Linked DNA regions of Homo sapiens: region 1 is linked to region 2. The links come from fine-mapping of genetic effects on gene expression. A gene starts in region 2. The other region holds a variant in brackets. All regions are shown on one strand. Distances are between the middles of the regions. Region 1 overlaps LOC105379330 (a long non-coding RNA gene). Region 2 holds the start of NEFM (neurofilament medium chain).

Evidence for each region.
Region 1: its variant is fine-mapped to the expression of NEFM in fibroblasts (GTEx, PIP 0.98).

What each region holds. Positions count from the first base shown.
Region 1 is chr8:25,003,059-25,014,515 of GRCh38, forward strand. It overlaps LOC105379330 (a long non-coding RNA gene), which reads left to right. Exons shown (of 3, transcript XR_949591.2): 2 at 5,336-5,529; 3 at 6,660-6,983. Among named protein-coding and RNA genes, the nearest start is that of NEFL, 52 kb to the left of the region's middle. The variant T/C (reference allele first, on the strand shown) is at 4,929.
Region 2 is chr8:24,908,871-24,920,327 of GRCh38, forward strand. It overlaps NEFM (neurofilament medium chain), which reads left to right and starts at 4,891. Exons shown (of 3, transcript NM_005382.2): 1 at 4,891-6,003; 2 at 6,735-6,859; 3 at 8,191-10,223. The coding sequence starts at 4,924. The coding sequence ends at 9,736. LOC112268023 (a long non-coding RNA gene) reads right to left here. Exons shown (of 3, transcript XR_002956698.2): 3 at 11,234-11,457. RefSeq lists an enhancer at 4,535-5,308.

The sequences.
Region 1 (11,457 bases), 94 kb after region 2:
TACCATGTACTATTTCCCATCCTAACATTTTTATGCAAGTAAAATCAGTTTAAACAAAGAACAGACTTAAAAGAGTAAGTCACAAAACTTGTAGCCTTATAAACTGTGCATGTCGGGGCTTATCCTTTTTGGTGAGGTCATTTGATGTTTGGGAAAGAGTTCTGAAGTCACACAGACCTACCCAGCTTTAGGACTTCACCATGGACTGCTGCGAGCTAGTATAAATTATTTAATCTCTCAAAGCCTCGGGGTTTTTATTTATTCAAGACAAAGATTAATAATATCATCTTTCCAAAGTCACAGTAAGAATTAAGCCATATTATGTATGTAAAAGTGCTTAGCAGAATTCTTGGCACATCACTGTTCCTGAATAAATGAAACTTTATTTTCCTTCTTTCCTTGGTCATGATGAGAATTGACTGGGTTATCTATTGATTATTTTGTGCATGAGCCTGTGATCAATCATTCTTCTTCCACAGATAGAAATGTGCACGCATATTAAGGTTAACAAGATTTGTGGTTGTGAAGTATAATTCTAAAGCCTCACAAGCATGAAGGGTGTGTGGACGTTTTCCTGAGTCATCCTAGGGAACAAAAGGGAGTGGGCAGAGCTAGTTACCAGAGTTGGAAAGGGATGCATCAGTCATTACATTCAGGGGCTGTTAGTTGGTTCCTTTTGCAAATGGGCTGTGAACTGCAGATGTCCCTGGGAGAGAAAATAGAAAATTACTAGCAAATTCCTAAGAGAACCTGGCCTCTTTAAAGAAGAGAAGACACATTGAGCTGGGAGTTGGAGGAGAAATGAGAAATTGAGCCACAGACTCTGAAAGATATCATCTGCCAAGAGGGAGATGAGGCTTTAAAAAGAACTTTAAGGATTTGTACATCTAGTCATGATGCAGTAACTGGTACTGGACTAGTTTTTTAGCTTTAAACAACTAGAAAGCCAGGAGAAAATATTTGAGGCTGGCAGTGGACAACAGACAGCCAGAGATGGTTATTTCTGAGAGAGAAAAACTTACAAGGTGAACCCCCAAATCATCCAGCTCTCTGCTGGAAGAGATTTTTCTAACTGTAGCACAGAGAGCTGAGGTCCAAGCAGGGCTCAAGAGTTGGGCCGAACAGAGAGAGAACAGAGTTTAGCAAAGCTGAAATAGTTGAATCTGCAGGGTGGAGCATCAACAAGGAGGTAGCTTTATAGAGAATACTACCCTAATCCCATATGAGGACCCCTTGTGAGGTCATGACTGCGGACTGGGCTGTAGATGAGCAGGAGACCACCTGGGACTCACAGGTTAGCAAATATTTGTGGGGGAAAAGATACTAGCAATGCTGGGGGAAGAGTTGTGCCCAAAGACTTTGGAATTCTGACCTGGAAAGAATAGAGATTTCAAAAACACTTTATTAACACTCCTGAAATCCAGCTAAGACACCAGAACTGCTTTTGTTTAGCAATAAGGGCTAACCTCTACAGCGGGGATGAGCAAACCTTTTTGTAAAGGGCAATATGTTCAATAATTTTCACTGTGCAGACTATATGGTCTGTACTGCAGCTACTCAACTCTGCTGTTGTAACAGAAAATCAGTCATAAAAAAATACTCAAATTAATAGCATGTCTGTGTTCCAAGACTCATTTCCAATATTTTCAAAAATAGAGAGTAGGCAGGATTGGTCTGAGGGTCAAAACATGCTCGTTCTAGAGTAAGACCTATTCCAGAATTGCAGTAACACAGCCTAAAACGGAGCCTTGACAAATAATTGGGGGGTGGGGAGTACAGAATTTGAAGGCCAAGTCCCATCAAGGTAGAGGAACTTGGGAAATGACTTGATTAAGGTGATCAGCCAGTAATTGAACTGCTTGCTAAACAATAATTAGCACTCTTCAGAGGAAGATAACAGAATTTAGAATTTCTTCAACATACTATTCAAAATCTAGTATTCAATTAAAAAAATCACTAGACAAACAAGAAAGTAAGAAAATATGCTCTGTAGTCAAGAAAGATAGCAGTCAATAATAACCAACCTGATGGCTCAGAGATTGAACTGAGCAGAAAAATATTTTATATCAGCTTTGATAAATATATCAAAAAATTGAATAAAAATGTGTTCAAAGAATGAAAGAAGCTGGTACAGTTGTGCATGCCAGTGCATCCTAGCTAGCCAAGAGGCTGAGACAGAAAGATCTTTTGAGCCCAGGAGTTCAAGACCAGCCTGGGAAACATAGTGAGACCCCATTACTTAAAATTAAAAAAAAAAATTTAATGTAAGAAAAAGCAAGGTCTGAAAATGAAGAAATAGGAAATCTTAGCAGAGAAATGAAAACTGTAATGAAAATAACTATCTCAAAATTCTGGAACTGAAAAGTACATTAACTAAAATGAAAAATCTAACAGCTTATTAGAGATGGCAAGAAAAAAGAATCAGTGAACTTGAAGATGGATTAGCTGAAACTATTCAACCTGAAGAAACAAGAGAAAAGAGACTGAAAAAAAATAAATGCAAACTCAAGGAACCGTGGAACAACACAAATAGTCTAACATACATAATTATAATTAGAAACTTCAGAAAGAAAAGAGAGTCAGATTAGGCAATTTTGAAAAAAAATCCCAAAACTGATTATATTACAGATCCAAGAAGTTTGACAAATACAAAACAGGATAAACATTTTTTAAACTACTCGTAGGCATATTACAGCCAAATTGCGGAAAAATCGAAGATGAAAAAAAAAGTCTTATAGCAGCCAGAGAAGACACACTGCATACGTCGAACCAAGGATAACAATGATCACTGATTTCTTATGAGAAAGTGTCCGGAAGACAACAGAAAGACATCTTTTCAAGTTGGACCCAGTGGCATGTGCCTGGAGTCCCAGCTAGTTGGGAGGCTGAGGCAAGAGGGTCACTTGAGCCTAGAAGGTTGAGGCTGCAGTGAGCTATGATCAAGCCACTGCACTTCAGCCAGGGCAGCAGAGTAAGACACTTTGTCAAAAACAAAAGAAGGAAGGAAGGGAGGGAGGGAGGGAGGGCAGGAGGGAAGGAGGGAGGAAAAGAAAGAAGAAAGAAAGACATCTTTTCAATGCTGAAAAAAAAAGTAAAGTCATAATTATGTGTCCAATGAAAAGATCCTTGGGGGAAAAAAGAGATCAATAAAGACATGTTCTGATAGATGAAATCTGAGACAATTTGTTACTAGCAGACCTGCACTATAAGAAATGGTGAAGATCCAAGGACTAAGGTAAAATGGTACCAGATGGAAGATCTATAGGAGGAACAAAGAAGCTGGAAATGGTAAATAAATGGACAAATATAAAAGAGAACCCAGGTCCAGACATTCTTAGAGAAGCCTCCCTGAAGGTAATTGTTCTTATGCCCTGGCTGGTACAACTGCTGCAGATGGGACGCTAGCCTGTACTGAGTACTTCCTGCGTGATAGGTAGCAGGCTAGACACTATCTATCTAAAAGCTGATTTAATGTACACATCAACACTGTGGTAGAAATTACTATTTCCTACAGCTATGGTCCATAGTTGAAGAATTTGGAAGCAGGTCCTGGTAGGATATTGCTTGAGTCCTTTGGTCCCAGTCCAAGTCAGTTTCATATCTACTCAAGACAGAGAAATTTTAGCACAATCTGATGGCTTCTAGAGTCATCTCAGTATAACCTAGCAAAGGATCTAGAAACTGTGATGGACTATTCATTCCTTAAGCACTTACTATGTGCTAGACATTGCAGTATACACGATTTTATTTTAATGTAGACTTTGTGCACATTGTTTCTTGTTTTTTTGTTTTGTTTTGTTTTTGATTTTGTTTTTGTTTTTGAGACAGAATCTTGCTCTGTTGCCCAGGCTGGAGTGTAGGCTCACTGCAACCTCTGCCGCCCGGGTTCAAGTGATTCTCCTGCCTCAGCCTCCTTCCTGAGTAGCTGGGATCACAGGTGCCCAACACCATGCCTGGCTAATTTTTGTATTTTTAGTAGAGACGGGGTTTCACCATGTTGGCCAGACTGGTCTCGAATTCCTGACCTCGTGATCCATCCAACTTGGCCTCCCAAAGTGCTGGGATTACAGGCATGAGCCACCGCGCCTGGCCCTGGTTTCATTTTTTAATCTCTACAACAAATTTAAACTGGTACAATTATTCCCATTTGACACATGAGGAAACTGAGGTTTTCAGAGGTTAGGTCATATTCTCCTGGTCACACAGCTGGTAATGTTAAAAATCATGTCAGTCTGATACCAAAGCTCGTAACCACTAAATTGTAACATGATCCTAGGATGAGGGGAAAAGAAGAAAAAGTGAAAGTTTACTGCTAATGGATGACAAGGAGGCAAGTAACTGAAAGAATCATCAGACTTTAAATTCATTCTCAGGAAAGCTTGAGGGAGATGACCCCTGATGCGTGTGTGGTAGAAGCTCCAAATTTTACAGAAATGTAGGTTAAAGCCACTGGGGCCTGTGTGAAGGAGAAAAGAGGGATCACACCGAAACTGCTCCAATTAGGAGTGTCTCTACAAGGGCTTAAACTGGTAGTGTCCTTGGTTAAATCTCTGATTATTTTTCATATCCAGTGTTTAAATCATGAATGGAGCCCTCAGGGGTGGCACTGCAGTTAGCAACGCAGGCTTTCCAGGGAAATGTCTTTACTGATTGTTTCCCTGGAAACGGTTAGGCTTCCATTCTGCTGAGTACCCCCCAGCACTCTCCAAGTTCCCTCTGTGTTGGAAGTCTCTGTTTAGAGTGGGAGGAGGAAACATGTATCAGCTGCAACTTTCTAAAATGTTGCACTTTGTTGCAATAAATGCCACTATTTCTGAAGCTGTCACAAATGTTGCAACACTGTCACAATAAATAATCACTATTTCTGAAGCTGTTGCAAAATGTTGTGATATTGTTGCAATAAATATGTTGTTTATGAAACTGTTGAA[T/C]TTATTAGAAATGTACTTTGGAGGCCGGGCGTGGTGACTCATGCCTGTAATCCCAGCACTTTGGAAGGCCAAGGCGGGCGGATCACGAGGTCAGGAGATCAAGACCAGCCTGGCTAACACGGTGAAACCCCGTCTCTACTAAAAATACAAAAAATTAGCCGGGCATGGTGGCGGGCGCCTGCAGTCCCAGCTACTTGGGAGGCTGAGGCAGGAGGATCCCTTGAACCCGGGAGGCGGAGGTTGCAGTGAGCTGAGATCGCACCACTGCACTCCAGCCTGGGTGACAGAACGAGACTGCTTCTCAAAAAAAAAGAAAAAGAAAAAAGAAAAGGAAAGAAATGTACACTGGAAAAGGGAAAGTGTGTGTTGGGTATTAGGCGTAGCAGAATTCCTTCTTTCCTCCCCAGTGCTATGGAGATATAAAGTTCAAGAACACAACATGCGTGCTTTCGAGGAGCGTATCATTATTCAGGAAGTCAAGACACCAGTGAATGAAAAGAAAACTCACTTTCTGCAATAGCGCAAAAGAGCAGTGAAGATGGTGCTCAGATGAACTGTAAGTGTTCAGATGAGGGAAACCATGGAAGACATCATGGAGGAGGTGAGACTTGTACAGGAGGTGAGAGTGAGCTGTTGGGAAGATATTCAGAATTGAGGGGCAAAGAGACGGGTAGTTTTCATGGGTGGACTTCAGGAGATTTGTGATCCATCTGAATTTACACACTAACATCCATGTATTTGTATATTTTTCTGGAAAGAGCAACCGATTGCATAAAGTTCTCAAGGAGTCTTTAGCAACCTAAGAAGTCAGAAAAAAAAAAAAAAAAAGACAGTACCGTAGAGGCCAGAAAATTATCAACAGCTTTATCATGGGTCTTACAGAAATACACCATCACCTTGGGTTACCTTTTTTTTTTTCTAATTACCTATAAGTAATTTAAAAGTGGATAATTTCAACGTTATGGGGAGGGTCTCAAGGTCAGCAGGGTGGGGCACACTGGGGATAGAGAGGTCTTTTGGCACTGCTATACACTGAGTAGGTGACTGACTGCCTCTTTGGGAGCCCACTGTCTCATAAATTCTTGAATCAGGGAACACTTGGGGTCTGTCATAGGGAACCAGGTGCCCTGATTTGTGAAACGTCAGCTATAGTAATTTCCTGGTATGCATATATAAATAATATTTGACCTCTGTGTGGAAATAAAAAGGTTTTCACCTTGCACTCCTAGACTGTGATGCTCCACAGTCATTGGTCTGCCTATGAAACTTTTTCTTTTTCTCCTTTTTTTTTTTTTTTTCGAGATGGAGTCTCGCTCTGTCACCCAGGCTGGAGCCTCCCGAGTAGCTGGGATTACAGGTGCCTGCCACCACTCCTGGCTAATTTTTCTTGTATTTTTAGTAGAGATGGGGTTTCACCAAGTTGGCCAGACTGGTCTTGAATGCCTGACCTCGTGATCTGCCAGCCTCGGTCTCCCAAAGTGCTGGGATTACAGGTGTGAGCCACCGCACCAGGCCACTTTTTTTGTTTTTCAAAATTTTTGTAGAGACAGGCTCTCACTATGTTGCCGAGGCTGGTTTCAAACTCTTGGCCTCAAGTGATCCTTCCTCCTGGGCTTCCCAAAGTGCTAAGGTTACAAGTGTAGCCACCACAGTGGGCCTAGGAAGCTAATTTAATACAAACCCCATCTCCCTCTCTGCTCACAGCAACCTCATCTTCCATTCCAATTCCAGATTTCTTCTGTTCCTGGTAGAATTGTGAGATGCTGCATCTGCGTTCCAGCTTTCAAGAATATAATCTATCATCTGAAAACTTAAAGTCTTTTTTTAAAAAAATTAGATCAAAGCAGAGAGAAAATGATCTTCAAGTTTCTTTACCAAACTTGGTATGTTCTTTTGGACTGAAAACTGATGGAGTTGGAAGTGACTTTTGTAGTGAAAATGAGGCTGGAGTAATTAATATTGTTCCAGTGTTCTGGTTATGCGCAGGAGTGAATCATGATACCCAAATTACAATGACTCATCTCTTCTGAGAGAATAAATTGTGATTCTATGAAAGTTTTGCTTCACTAGGAATTTTTTGAAGGGTTCTGTTTGTTCTAGTTTAGAAACCTACACAGGCAATATGGGCTTTGCAAAGGTATAAAATTTTCTTAAATAAAACTAAACAAAGATCTATTTTGATTTTCAGCGTTGGATTTTTTTTTTTTCTTGCCTTTCCTTTGCTTCTGGGAGAAAGTATCTTCAGACAGGAAGCTTTGAGCTACTCATAAATTCTCCCTAACACTGCAGAAACATATTTCACTATGAAATGGTGGAGATGACAGTAAGAGCCTCTTGTTTGAGGGGCAAAGCTGAGACATCCTGAATGCTATGGAAGTTTAATCTTCCATGCTGACGCAATCACGGGAATATTGTGCTCCTGGGGTTTTCTTTATTGCCAGCTACTGTCTAATGCCAGGACAAAAGGAATAATTTGATTACAGCCGAGGAAAGCACAGTTTGTTCCTGTTACTTTTAAGTTTCTTTCTGTTTTTCATTTGTTTTGAAATGAGAGATTGAGAACTCAGAATGTATTTGGTACAAAATGAAAGATAACTACTGCCTAGAGCTATATGGCAAAGACTGCAATATTTAGGGTGGCTCGAATAAAAGGAGCTCTCTGCTTCTTATCTAGTTAACAAAATGATAAAGGGATCCTGTCTGGCATATGCGATTAATTCTCCCTTAGGAAAGGGACATAAATTATTCTTAATTGCCGAGTTATGGGTCTGTTATAATTAAAGTTTGTTACTGGGGGTAAAATGACACCAAGGGAGCAAAGACTGGACAATCTGCCCACATGGGAATGTGTCTTCACCTGAACTTGGACCCATTTGTGAATCAGCAAAACTTTAGCTTTCTTCCTCCATCCTGTGCTCCTTCTGTTATGAAACCTCATTGGCTCCATTCTTCCCAAAAGCTTATTTCTGTCTGTGAACTTTCCTACCCATGTTGAGGTCGTATTCTGTCAGTGGAGAGGAGGACTGAGTCTCTTCTCTTTTGGATGCAACTTGAAACCTGAAAATCTGAAAGGGGAGAACATTCTCCAAATCTACAAATAGCAGATTGGCTTAATTTTGAAGCCTTCTTGTCCTCAAAAGAAAAAGGGGTGGGGTCAGGGTAGAAAGAGTTATACAGTCATTTTAGGTTTTGCACTTGGGATCAATGAAGGAGTTTGTTTGCCTTAGGATGGGAAAAACTTTTAGAGCCCCCTGGAGTTCAGTGAGCCAGATAGGTGATCAAGTCTCAGGATGAAGCCAATGCTACAGGTACTGATGATAACATCAAACAGGTCTCAGGGTCTCCAAAGTTTAGTAGGGACCTTGAGACACCATGGAGACCACTCCTATACTTTCCCAACATTTGTATATTCTCAGACAGCTAAGAACCCATCAGCTTTATGAAGCCTTCCTGAAAGAGAGGTTCTGCAGAAATCTTATCTCCCCAACTAGCATGTTAGTACTTCATGGAAAGAAACTGTGTATTGGATTGATTTTTAATTTTTTAGTTTTTAACTTTTGTGGTACATAATAGGTATATATATTTGTGAGATACATGAGATGTTTTGATACAGGCATGCAATATGTAATAATCCCATAAAGGAAAATGGGGTATCCATGCCCTCAGGCATTTATCCTTTGTGTTACAATCTAATTTTACTCTTTTAGTTAGTTAAAAATGTACAATTAAATTATCTTTACTTGGACATTGTTATATCAACATTGTGTAGTAAAGTTCTGTGCACAGTTTAGATGTTTAATGCATATTTAAGGCCTAACTGAACATGTTCCTTGAACCTTTTTCTGGCACCTGCCCTCCTTAACCCACTAAGTTTGAGAAGAAATTGGGAGATGAAAGATGGTCCAACTACCTTCCCGTCCCTCAGTTTATATCACGCTATGGTAAACTCGTGGCATCAGAAGTATTTATCCTCAACCCTCCAGCCTCCCCTTCCTAGTATCCCCTCTTAACACCAAATAACCAATGAATAGAGGAGTAGGTACAGACTAGAGAGCCTGGGCTCAGCTGCAGCCCAACTTAGCAGTGTTTCAGTTGAAAAGAACTTCTTCTCAGGCAAGAAATAACTAAGATCAGAGCAGAACTGAAGGAAATAGAGACACAAAAATCCCTTCAAAAAACTAATGAATCCAGGAGCTGGTTTTTTGAAAAGATCAACAAAATTGATAGACTGCTAGCAAGACTAATAAAGAAGAAAATAGAGAATAATCAAATAGACTCAATAAAAAGTGATAAAGGGGATATCACCACCGATCCCACAGAAATACAAACTACCATCAGAGAATACTATAAACATCTCTGCGCAAATAAACTAGAAAATCTAGAAGAAATGGATAAATTCCTCGACACATACACCCTCCCAAGACTAAACCAGGAAGAAGTTCAATCTCTGAATAGACAAATAACAGGCTCTGAAATTGAGGCAATAATCAATAGCTTACCAACCAAAAAAGTCCAGGACCAGATGGATTCACAGCCGAATTCTACCAGAGGTACAAGGAGGAGCTGGTACCATTCCTTCTGAAACTATTCCCATCAATAGAAAAAGAGGGAACCCTCCCTAACTCATTTTATGAGGCCAGAATCATCCTGATACCAAAGCCGGGCAGAGACACAACCATAAAAGAGAATTTTAGACCAATATCCTTGATGAACATTGATGCAAAAATCCTCAATAAAATACTGGCAAACTGAATCCAGCAGCACATCAAAAAGCTTATCCACCATGATCAAGTGGGCTTCATCCCTGGGATGCAAGACTGGTTCAACATATGCAAATCAATAAATGTAATCCAGCATATAAACAGAACCAAAGACAAAAACCACATGATTATCTCAATAGATGCAGAAAAGGCCTTTGACAAAATTCAACAACTTTCATGCTAAAAACTCTCAATAAATTAGGTGTTGATGGGACATATCTCAAAATAATAAGAGCTATCTATGACAAACCCACAGCCAATATCATACTGAATGGGCAAAAACTGGAAGCATTCCCTTTGAAAACTGGCACAAGACAGGGATGCCCTCTCTCACCACTCCTATTCAACGTAGTGTTGGAAGTTCTGGCCAGGGCAATCAGAGAGGAGAAGGAAATAAAGGGTATTCAATTAGGAAAAGAGGAAGTCAAATTGTCCCTGTTTACAGATGACATGATTGTATATCTAGAAAACCCCAGCGTCTCAGCCCAAAATCTCCTTAAGCTGATAAGCAACTTCAGCAAAGTCTCAGGATACAAAATCAATGTACAAAAACCACAAGCATTCTTATACACCAATAACAGACAAACACAGCCAAATCATGAGTGAACTCCCATTCACAATTGCTTCAAAGAGAATAAAATACCTAGGAATCCAACTTACAAGGGATGTGAAGGACCTCTTCAAGGAGAACTACAAACAACTGCTCAATGAAATAAAAGAGGGTACAAACAAATGGAAGAACATTCCATGCTCATGGGTAGGAAGAATCAATATCGTGAAAATGGCCATACTGCCCAAGGTAATTTATAGATTCAATGCCATCCCCATCAAACTACCAATAACTTTCTTCACAGAATTGGAAAAAACTACTTTAAAGTTCATATGGAACCAAAAAAGAGCCCACATCACCAAGTCAATCCTAAACCAGAAGAACAAAGCTGGAGGCATCACGCTACCTGACTTCAAACTATACTACAAGGCTACAGTAACAAAAACAGCATGGTACTGGTACCAAAACAGAGATATAGACCAATGGAACAGAACAGAGCCCTCAGAAATAATGCCGCATATCTACAACTATCTGATCTTTGACAAACCTGACAAAAACAAGAAATGGGGAAAGGATTCCCTATTTAATAAATGGTGCTGGGAAAACTGGCTAGCCATATGGAGAAAGCTGAAACTGGATCCCTTCCTTACACCTTATACAAAAATTAATTCAAGATGGATTAAAGACTTAAATGTTATACCTAAAACCATAAAAACCCTAGAAGAAAACCTAGGCAATACCATTCAGGACATAGGCATGGGCAAGGACTTCATGTCTAAAACACCAAAAGCAATGGCAACAAAAGCCAAAATTGACAAATGGGATCTGATTAAACTAAAGAGCTTCTGCACAGCAAAAGAAAATACCATCAGAGTGAACAGGCAACCTACAGAATGGGAGAAAATTTTTGCAACCTACTCATCTGACAAAGGGCTAATATCCAGAATCTACAATGAACACAAACAAATTTACAAGAAAAAAACAAACAACCCCATCAAAAAGTGGGCAAAGGATATGAACAGACACTTCTCAAAAGAAGACATTTATGCAGCCAAAAAACATATGAAAAAATGCTCATCATCACTGGCCATCAGAGAAATGCAAATCAAACCCACAATGAGATACCATCTCACACCAGTTAGAATGGCAATCATTAAAAAGTCAGGAAACAACAGGTGCTGGAGAGGATGTGGAGAAATAGGAACACTTTTACACTGTT
Region 2 (11,457 bases):
CACTCCATATATATATAAATTTTAACCAAAAAAGTGAGTTAAGTATTCTAAAATAGATGCTCTTCTTAATAAGCTAAGTGACAAGACAGAGCTATGACAGTGAGCCCATTTTCAAAGGATTATGAAAGAATATTGATTTTCAAATTTGCAGAGATTGAAAAAAAATCACCCAGTCCTGGGACAATGAGACTGAATTATTAGGTGGGGCTTCTTTGTGACTTTCTGTTCCCAGGTTTAGCTCTTTTCAGAAATTTGGTCCAAAGATCATTGATCTGCTCTAGTTTTACGAAGCTCATTTTAATTAAGAGTTTCTAATAAAAGAATTATGTCTCTTGCTAAGTCAGGCCTTGGTAAGCTTGGGATAAAATATGTCATAAATATTTCATAGCTGCACTGGTGCAGTTACGTGCAAGGCAGGGTTTTCAAAATTCAAGTGCATATCATCAACATCTGTTGCTGCTTTATAGGTAAAGCTAATGGGTTCAGTTAAAAACATGCTGAAAATTAATACAGGAGTACTCTTTTATTATGCATCTACTGAACTTTATTTTTAGAGTCACTTTTACCAAGGCTCTATTAAGTACTTTTTTAAAATTCTAAATCTTTCTCCCCTGGCTTTCACAGAAAGGATTCACAGTGGAGAGGTGAAAGCATTACACAGCAAAAAAATCAGCAAGCTATGTTAAAGCCAAAAGCTAAATTTTCCCCCACCACACACATGAAATTTCCAGATATAGAATTTTAAAACTGATTAATTTAACATTTGGAATATAATAAAGATTAAATGTTTTAAGTTTTGTAAATACTTCAATTAACTTCATCATAACAGTAACTGACAAATAGAAGGCAATATTCAAAGAATAAAATATTTGGCAAGGGAAACAAACACCATTTCAGTGGCCTAATGACAGAAAAGGAACACTGTGGTCTAGATGGATTTGTTTTGATCAAAGACAATAGGGACATACATATACATCCCAATTTCCCTGACAAGAAACAGTCTTTCTCCCCTGAGAATATTTTTATTTTGCTTTCAACTCTTGACAACAACAAAATCAAAAGTCAACACTGCTTTTAAAGTTTGACATCCTGAGGATCAAGTAGAAATATGTAATATAGCTTCCTTTTTCTTGTGTTCCTGCTTCGGCAGACTAAGTCCCTAGCTTCCTACATCAACAACCCCTTAAACAATTAGCAGAGGACAGGTTATAAATAATTATTATGAGTTCTAGAACCAGATCCCAGGCAAACGGATTAAGTTCAAGACACAATAGGTTGAAAGAAAGTACAGATCATCTCATCTTGGATGGATTCAGCCTACCAATTTGAAAGTGACGTTGTCCATCTGGAGTATCTTTCTTGCTATCCAGTTCCTACATCCCATCCTCCTTGCATTTTTTTATATCCAAAAATGCTATTTAAAAGAAGAAATGTAAGGAAATAGGGAAAGATGGGAGAAAATGCCTAACTCCTTATTTTTTATCTTTATTTTATGACCCAGTAAATATACCACCTTTGCAAATGATATTTTCCCAGTATTAGATGACACCCTACAAAACCTGACAGTGGCTATCATCTCTTAGCTGCAAAGTTAACATTTTCACTTTCCCTACTGAAGGAACATATAGATTGGAGCATGCCTTGTATTTCTCTATAAAGTGATTCAAAACAGACTGTAGCTTATGAAACAACAATTCAGAGATAATTTCATTTAAAATGTCTTACATCTAAATCATATGAGAAACTTTTCTATTTAGAATAAATTACAAAAGTATCGTAGTCAAACTTAATTCCATGAATGCAGTGTGGTTAATCCGGGTGAGTTGCCATGATTGTTTTCTCTCTTTTTAATATTTTGAGAAGATTTCATAGCCTTAGTGTTCTTAGGGTTTAAAAAAATGCAAAAGCATTTCTTTCTGTGAAAACTATTAAGATGGTAAATATTCTTCAAAACTATGAGACAAAAAGGGAAAAACATCTTTTATAGCTTTTTAAAAAAAGTTTTCATACTAAATTTACTGATGGGTATAACCTTCAAATCACCTTTAGGAAGAGTAGTTAAAGTGGAAGAGTTTAATATAAAAGAAAACATTTTGCTAAATGTGAAACTGGATCCATCATTTTTTAAGCCATGGGAACTGTTTTTTCTTAATAAAACAACTGTTTTAATTCTTTGCATTATCCTGTAGTGCCCAGATTGAACAATATATCATGTGACATTGAAGTTACAATTTTAAGTTATAGGCACTAGATGTAGCCTGAGTAACTGACTTATTTTGTTTGTACGCAACACTTTCCTCCTTCTGTAACCAGCTGGAAGCTGAACAATTTCTCAGCTACTTCAGATACAAGGCAAAACTGGGTAATTGTGAAGTTAGACATGTGTTTCCTTGTAAATGTCTCTCTGCAGAGTCATCTCGTTTCCAAAGCCCTAAAGAAAATTAACAGCAGAAGGCTGCCGGTTAACCATGTACTCTCATTGCAGAGTTTGCAGTGAATGTGCACCATGAAATTGCCAAGGATTTTTATATATTTCAATAAAAGCAGAAAGTAATAAGCAACAAAGGCAAAATTACTGCATAATTAGCATTTGGCCTTATCTAGATGGTATCCTGCTGAGTCCAGCCTGACATCCGCAATACTTTACAGAAGGCAGGGAATTTTCTTTCTCCTTGCCTTTATTTATCTACATAAAACCAGAAAATCCTGTTTTTACAGTATTCACAAGTCAGTCCCCTCATTCCATCATCTGTCTCTCTCAACAACTCAAGACATGGATGGGCTCTGCTTGCCTAAGGTCTCTCAGCAAACTAGAACATCCTTCTCCTACATGGCCTGCGATACTGCAGTTTCATATTAATAAACCAAAGTAACTCCCAAAATTAGCACCTCCTGTTTAAAACATTATTTCTATTTTAATACAGATGGGCCAAGGGAGCTGATAAAAATAAAAAATAAAACCTCTAGAAACCCACCCCTTTCCTGATTACTTACTGATGAATATGATCCTGTCTTTTAATAAAACAGGGACTTAAGGAAACATGCTGTGAAAAGAAGCTATTTCGGTCTGGAGTCCCTACTTTTTATAAGCAGTAGTTTCTTCTCACCCATAGCAAGCGTTGCACATTCAGTCACTTGTACCTGTGGCCCCAGCGCTGTTGTTAGTTCTGCAATCTCTTCTTCACTTTATCTTGTAGTATTCTGAACTTTTTTAACCTGAATTACCCCCAAAGCACTACCCAAAATAAAGGGACATTTTAACAGGAGTACACCAGACAGCAAGAAGTCTGTGTAGAGTTCTTGTTTGCATAAACATGTTTAATGATATAGAAAATCTATTCCAAATCAATCATTAAAATCTAAAGCGAAAAATATATTACATTTTAAATGAAGGGAAAACATCTGATTTTATTCAAGGTTGTGGTGACTCTGTTCCGCAACTTTTAAATCAATTTAAAGTTAATTCAGATGCCTTTTCAATCATTGCAGTTACACATAGGGAATACTGAACCGAAAGATGACAAGGCAATTGTCTGTGTCCAAACTTAAGAAAAACTATATTTCCCTGGACTTTTCATCCCAACAGATTTCAAATTCTCCTTTCCAAGGAGTATTTGACCTTCACATTTCAGGCCCTGTATCTCTTCATTTCCTATACCACCATATGTTAGAAAACTCAAACTGGGCTACAAGTATATATTTCTGTTAACTGACTTTAATGAATTTTGGTTGTTTTCAAAATCTGCGATCTGTCCATTGTGCCAACCCTGCATTGCAGGGAAGTCTTAGCCTGTGATTCCAGCTTCGCTCCTGCAAAGATAGTCACTACAGGCAGGTTTAAATTGTATTTACTCGGAGAGAAGAGGGGGAAGGGAACCCCCTGCCCCCTGCCAACCTGACAGGCCAGGCTGGGTGACAAGCCCCCCGGGTGGCTGCACCTCCCACTCGCCGACCTGGGCGCTGTCCTTGGTGCTGCCGGCGCCATAGCGAGCACAAGCGCCTTACCTTCTGCCCCTGCGGAAGCTGCGGACGTCCCCCAAACGTTAAAAACGCCATATCCCACTTTTTATACAAATAACTACCCCGGCCTGTTCTCTTTGTCCCCTTCCCGAAGCCTTCAGGCAGACCGTTCCGCAAAGTCTTTTTTTTTGTTTTGTTTTGTCTTCTAGACCCAGCTCCTCGGCGCTCATCTCCAGCTGCTTTAAGACAAGGGGTGGGGGAAGGGGAGGGAGGCAAGAAAAGATGAGGGTGGGGGAGGGGAAAAGAGGGAATGCAAGGGGAAGGAGGGAGGAGACGGGGAGAAGGAAAGATTGGAAGAAAAGGATCTCCGAGGAAGGGGCTGAGAGAAGGGCAGGGTGAACTGGACTAAAGGCCAGAGTAGGAAGGAGAAGAGGGGCCAAAAAAGAAGGGGATGAAATTAAGCACAGAAGATGGGTAAAGAAAAAAGTATCAGGGAAAGGGCAAAATAAGAGAAAGCCTTGAGGATAAGAGGGTAGAAGGCTAAAGAACAAGGGGACCACGGGGTCGGGGAAGCGCTGCCTGAACGGCGGGACAGTGACAAAGAAAGGGCGCTGGCGATATTCGCACCAAGGGTGCGAAACGCAATCGGGAGGTGAGAAATGGAAAGAAGGCGAATGCCCGGCTACAAGTAGCCTGGGACTGAAAGGGGACCTGGGGGAGGGGCTGGGCCCAGGGCAGAAAAGTCCAGGTTCCCATGCGGCCTGGGCCCACGTGGAGCGGGCGCTGAATCACCGTTCAGCCGCCCCCCTCCCCTCCTCCCCGACCGGTGCCCGCAGTCCCCGCCTCCTCGGCCGCCGCCTCCACGGGGCGGGGCCCTGGCCCGGGACCAGCGCCGCGGCTATAAATGGGCTGCGGCGAGGCCGGCAGAACGCTGTGACAGCCACACGCCCCAAGGCCTCCAAGATGAGCTACACGTTGGACTCGCTGGGCAACCCGTCCGCCTACCGGCGGGTAACCGAGACCCGCTCGAGCTTCAGCCGCGTCAGCGGCTCCCCGTCCAGTGGCTTCCGCTCGCAGTCGTGGTCCCGCGGCTCGCCCAGCACCGTGTCCTCCTCCTATAAGCGCAGCATGCTCGCCCCGCGCCTCGCTTACAGCTCGGCCATGCTCAGCTCCGCCGAGAGCAGCCTTGACTTCAGCCAGTCCTCGTCCCTGCTCAACGGCGGCTCCGGACCCGGCGGCGACTACAAGCTGTCCCGCTCCAACGAGAAGGAGCAGCTGCAGGGGCTGAACGACCGCTTTGCCGGCTACATAGAGAAGGTGCACTACCTGGAGCAGCAGAATAAGGAGATTGAGGCGGAGATCCAGGCGCTGCGGCAGAAGCAGGCCTCGCACGCCCAGCTGGGCGACGCGTACGACCAGGAGATCCGCGAGCTGCGCGCCACCCTGGAGATGGTGAACCACGAGAAGGCTCAGGTGCAGCTGGACTCGGACCACCTGGAGGAAGACATCCACCGGCTCAAGGAGCGCTTTGAGGAGGAGGCGCGGTTGCGCGACGACACTGAGGCGGCCATCCGCGCGCTGCGCAAAGACATCGAGGAGGCGTCGCTGGTCAAGGTGGAGCTGGACAAGAAGGTGCAGTCGCTGCAGGATGAGGTGGCCTTCCTGCGGAGCAACCACGAGGAGGAGGTGGCCGACCTTCTGGCCCAGATCCAGGCATCGCACATCACGGTGGAGCGCAAAGACTACCTGAAGACAGACATCTCGACGGCGCTGAAGGAAATCCGCTCCCAGCTCGAAAGCCACTCAGACCAGAATATGCACCAGGCCGAAGAGTGGTTCAAATGCCGCTACGCCAAGCTCACCGAGGCGGCCGAGCAGAACAAGGAGGCCATCCGCTCCGCCAAGGAAGAGATCGCCGAGTACCGGCGCCAGCTGCAGTCCAAGAGCATCGAGCTAGAGTCGGTGCGCGGCACCAAGGAGTCCCTGGAGCGGCAGCTCAGCGACATCGAGGAGCGCCACAACCACGACCTCAGCAGCTACCAGGTAGGAACCGCGGCTGCGCGGCCAGCCTGCGCCAGCGCCAGCGCCGCGCGCCCCCGACACTTGGGCTCGTGCCCAGGCGCCCTCTCCGCCGCGCTCCCTGGTGGCCGCTCGCTAGAGCACGCGCGCCGCAGACCTAGGGTATTTGCGGATCAGCGTCCTCGCCCATCTCATCCTCCACACTCCGCCCCCACCCACCTGCCCCAGCTGCTAAGGGTCTTGACCTTTTTCAGAAACGTGCATCTTTTCCAGTTCTAATTTTGCACGCTTGCACGTTTAAAGCAGGAGGGATGAATTCGGTAGTGGATAAATCAGCAACTTTAGGATAGCTTATGCAGAAACGCGTGTATTCTCTACTTTTCCGGCAGTGATCGGAAGAGCTCTCAAAATTGGCTTCAGCCCAAAGGGCTCAGATGGGAATGGCCAGGTCAGCCATGGAGTTTCCCCATGCATGTTTGTGTCCTGTTGAGACGTGTTCTAAGTCCACTGGTCTCCGTGCGTGATGTGCCCAGGAAGTGTCCTATTGTCTTACTGATCTTGTATGTTCATTTGAGAATCGCTTAGATTTAAAAGAAAAAGGGGGTGGGACGGGGGGCTGGGAGTCAGGTGTCAGCGAGGTTTGCAGAAGTGGAGGGAGACGGGAGGAGGCCAGGGGGAAGGGGTAGCAAGTGGTTTGCGAAGGAAGTTGCTGTTTGCAAGGATGAGTCTGGGGAGATTCTCTGTGTCTGTTTCAGGACACCATCCAGCAGCTGGAAAATGAGCTTCGGGGCACAAAGTGGGAAATGGCTCGTCATTTGCGCGAATACCAGGACCTCCTCAACGTCAAGATGGCTCTGGATATAGAAATCGCTGCGTACAGGTACGATGCTTACTACGTGCGTGGCCGGAACACTAACCGCAGTGCAGAGGCTGTTCCGGCAGAGCTTCCACCACTTAAGTTAAAGCAGGCAGGGTGCAGGCATCAACTCAGCACCTGGTTATCTTGCTTACTTAAAAAGAAATTATTCTAAAGAATTGCAAGTGTAGTTTTATCTCTTTTTATGCAGCTTTAAAAGAATGAATACTAGTAGAAACAAAAGGTTTTTGAATTACACAAAGGAGGTGCAGATTAATCTCAATGCACATGCTTAAACTTTTTATGGAAAAATGTTTTCAAATGCTGGAAGCATGAACAGAGTTTTGGTTTCTAATATTTCATCTAGTGGTTTCAGCTTTTCAAATGTATAATGTCAAGGACAAACACCAGGACGTTCTATTTCTCTGTTTCTCTGTTATATAGCTTACTATTGCCATCATCTGGCTGAGAATAGATATAGAATGATAGAATATAGATATAGTTCTTTTATATATGTAGATAATTTATATGTATTATATTTTATGCTAGACTGTAGTATAAATTATATCAATATATCATGTATGATATTAATCTAGATCTATAGATACACATATGTGCATATGCATATAAATCTAGATATATAGACACAAATATATATGATCGTTTTATAGATAGTGAGATAGGTTATAGGTCTATTAACTGAAGTGACCTTGCTGTTGACTAAGCGCAAAGGACAAAATCGTTGATTAAAATTTTTCTGCTACCAATAAGGTAGTTATAATATAACGAGAATAAATTGCATTTACAGAGCTATCTCTCTTTTCAGGAAAGCTGAATAACTACATTAAATAGACACTTTATGATAAAAATTATCAACAAATTTATAACTCGATACACCTGAAAATCTAAACGTTTAAGAAAGTGACTACTCTCAGAAAGGCTGTTTGGCTTTGGAGTTTGGGGGCGTTTTGTTTATGGCTTTTTGTTTTTTTGTTTTTGTTTTTGTTTTTTGCTATTTGGCCACTAACAAGTTTTTCAGCATATTCATGTTGTACCTAATGGATCTCTACTGCAGGGCCAAGACTTAGTAGCTGGGTGTGGTTAGTGGACTATTGGGCAAGGTTAGTCATTGTAGGGGGCAACTGTCTGGCAGTCCAGGAGAATCTTTCTCTGTCACTGAGTATAATGTAATATGCCAGTAAGTGATAGCAGGTATTATAGTGAATTCATAGAATATTCTACTTATGTAATTCTATTTATTCAAAGGTAGCTACCACAATACCCAGAATGTAATGAAGCTCAGAAGGCCTAGTGAAATTTTTACTATGTCTTATGTTCTTGGATTTTCTCCTTAGAAAACTCCTGGAGGGTGAAGAGACTAGATTTAGCACATTTGCAGGAAGCATCACTGGGCCACTGTATACACACCGACCCCCAATCACAATATCCAGTAAGATTCAGAAACCCAAGGTGGAAGCTCCCAAGCTTAAGGTCCAACACAAATTTGTCGAGGAGATCATAGAGGAAACCAAAGTGGAGGATGAGAAGTCAGAAATGGAAGAGGCCCTGACAGCCATTACAGAGGAATTGGCCGTTTCCATGAAGGAAGAGAAGAAAGAAGCAGCAGAAGAAAAGGAAGAGGAACCCGAAGCTGAAGAAGAAGAAGTAGCTGCCAAAAAGTCTCCAGTGAAAGCAACTGCACCTGAAGTTAAAGAAGAGGAAGGGGAAAAGGAGGAAGAAGAAGGCCAGGAAGAAGAGGAGGAAGAAGATGAGGGAGCTAAGTCAGACCAAGCCGAAGAGGGAGGATCCGAGAAGGAAGGCTCTAGTGAAAAAGAGGAAGGTGAGCAGGAAGAAGGAGAAACAGAAGCTGAAGCTGAAGGAGAGGAAGCCGAAGCTAAAGAGGAAAAGAAAGTGGAGGAAAAGAGTGAGGAAGTGGCTACCAAGGAGGAGCTGGTGGCAGATGCCAAGGTGGAAAAGCCAGAAAAAGCCAAGTCTCCTGTGCCAAAATCACCAGTGGAAGAGAAAGGCAAGTCTCCTGTGCCCAAGTCACCAGTGGAAGAGAAAGGCAAGTCTCCTGTGCCCAAGTCACCAGTGGAAGAGAAAGGCAAGTCTCCTGTGCCGAAATCACCAGTGGAAGAGAAAGGCAAGTCTCCTGTGTCAAAATCACCAGTGGAAGAGAAAGCCAAATCTCCTGTGCCAAAATCACCAGTGGAAGAGGCAAAGTCAAAAGCAGAAGTGGGGAAAGGTGAACAGAAAGAGGAAGAAGAAAAGGAAGTCAAGGAAGCTCCCAAGGAAGAGAAGGTAGAGAAAAAGGAAGAGAAACCAAAGGATGTGCCAGAGAAGAAGAAAGCTGAGTCCCCTGTAAAGGAGGAAGCTGTGGCAGAGGTGGTCACCATCACCAAATCGGTAAAGGTGCACTTGGAGAAAGAGACCAAAGAAGAGGGGAAGCCACTGCAGCAGGAGAAAGAGAAGGAGAAAGCGGGAGGAGAGGGAGGAAGTGAGGAGGAAGGGAGTGATAAAGGTGCCAAGGGATCCAGGAAGGAAGACATAGCTGTCAATGGGGAGGTAGAAGGAAAAGAGGAGGTAGAGCAGGAGACCAAGGAAAAAGGCAGTGGGAGGGAAGAGGAGAAAGGCGTTGTCACCAATGGCCTAGACTTGAGCCCAGCAGATGAAAAGAAGGGGGGTGATAAAAGTGAGGAGAAAGTGGTGGTGACCAAAACGGTAGAAAAAATCACCAGTGAGGGGGGAGATGGTGCTACCAAATACATCACTAAATCTGTAACCGTCACTCAAAAGGTTGAAGAGCATGAAGAGACCTTTGAGGAGAAACTAGTGTCTACTAAAAAGGTAGAAAAAGTCACTTCACACGCCATAGTAAAGGAAGTCACCCAGAGTGACTAAGATTTGAGTCCATTGCAAAAGGTTAAGCCATATGACAATTTCAAAATGCATGTGATTGGCAGCTTCAAAACAGAACGGGTTCTCCCATGGGGGCTCCAGACATTGTATTTTACTTTGTGCAATATGAGGGGACTGCATGCAAGCTCAGGGTGCTCCCTCCTCAGTCTTTGGGGGATTCAAATGCATGATATTGTATGTACCTGGGAAATTTGCCGATTTCCTAAGCTGTTGGAAGGGGGTCACTTAAGGGGGGATGTCTTGAGATGTATTATGCAAAGTACCAACTGAGCCAAAAACAATAAACGAAACACAGAACTCAGCCTTAAGAAAGCTATATATGAATAATTATGTTTACCTCACTGGTGCATTTAAAATGGACTTTTGTTCATGGGAGAACCTCGTTGACATGCACAGTTTGCAATCTTATGTTGATCGATGTTAAACGTCACAGCAGTACTTGCTCAATAAAGGTCATATTGGAAACATAGTCAATTGCTGAGTCTTATGTCATTTCTCTTTTTCTAATTTTTATTTATTTATTTTTATTTAGAGATGGGGTCTTGCTATGTGGCCTCAAGCAGTCCTCCCACCTCAGCCACCCAAAGTGCTGGGATTACAGGCATGAGCCACCACGCCCAGCCTGTTATGCCATTTCAAAGTGAAATCTCCACTACCTGAAGCTTTCTTGCCCTGAAATAGATTATTGGGGGGAATCATAAGTAAACTGCACATCTTATTGCTATTTCCCTGACAGCAATTACTTGGAAAACGTAATTGCTGAAGATATTTTCAGGTGTCAACATCTTCACCGAGCCCGGTCTTCATCCCAAAATTTTAAAATCATATTTTTGAAATAAAAATAAAAGCATCAGATACAAATAGGAATCTGGTGGGATAGAAATCTTCAGTGTTTGTTTCTATCCCAAAACAGAACTCAGAACCTCTAGGTAAGAGGACCAATAAAGGAGGGGTTCATAACTTGTGCCTTGGAGTTGGGACAGAGACAGAGGAGCTCATGGCATTTATGACGATGTGTCCAGTGGGGACAGGGCTGACATCACTAACACTCCTACCCGGAACTATCCAGCCTCAGAGGCATGCCTCCTGTGCACAAACACACACATACACATTGTCTGCATCACTAATGCTTGATTTGACTGACAGAGATTTACACCTTTAGTATTTTACTAATTGTGGAAAATGATATAAAAAATAAATAAAATACCCTACCTGAGAAAAGAAAAATGAGATTCTGTGACATAGGCAATAAGTGTTTTTAAATAAAAAGACATGATCTTGACCAAGGAAATACTATCATCCCCTTTTCAAAACTTGTTTTAGGCCTTGAAGACCATTAATATATTAATTAGCACATTATCCTGTCCAAGTCCATGTTTTTTCATTAATAGGATCAGCTCAATAATACAATCCTTGATATATTTTCAATGACTTTTTCAAGATAACTCCAATTTTAATGCCTAAACATACCCAGGAAGCTAATTGTTAACGGCAGTTTTTATTGTTTCCCAATCATTAGCCATTTGCCAATCCTCACAATTTTGGCTACATCTGAGTATTATCTGTACAATTATGTATTCAGATTTCTTTCTTTAAAACAATTTATGTTTTAAGTTAAGATGTTAATTTTTCTGAAGCAAAAATATCCATGACACGCAAAGTGACACAGGATTATTTAAATATAATCAGCAAAAAAAAAAAAA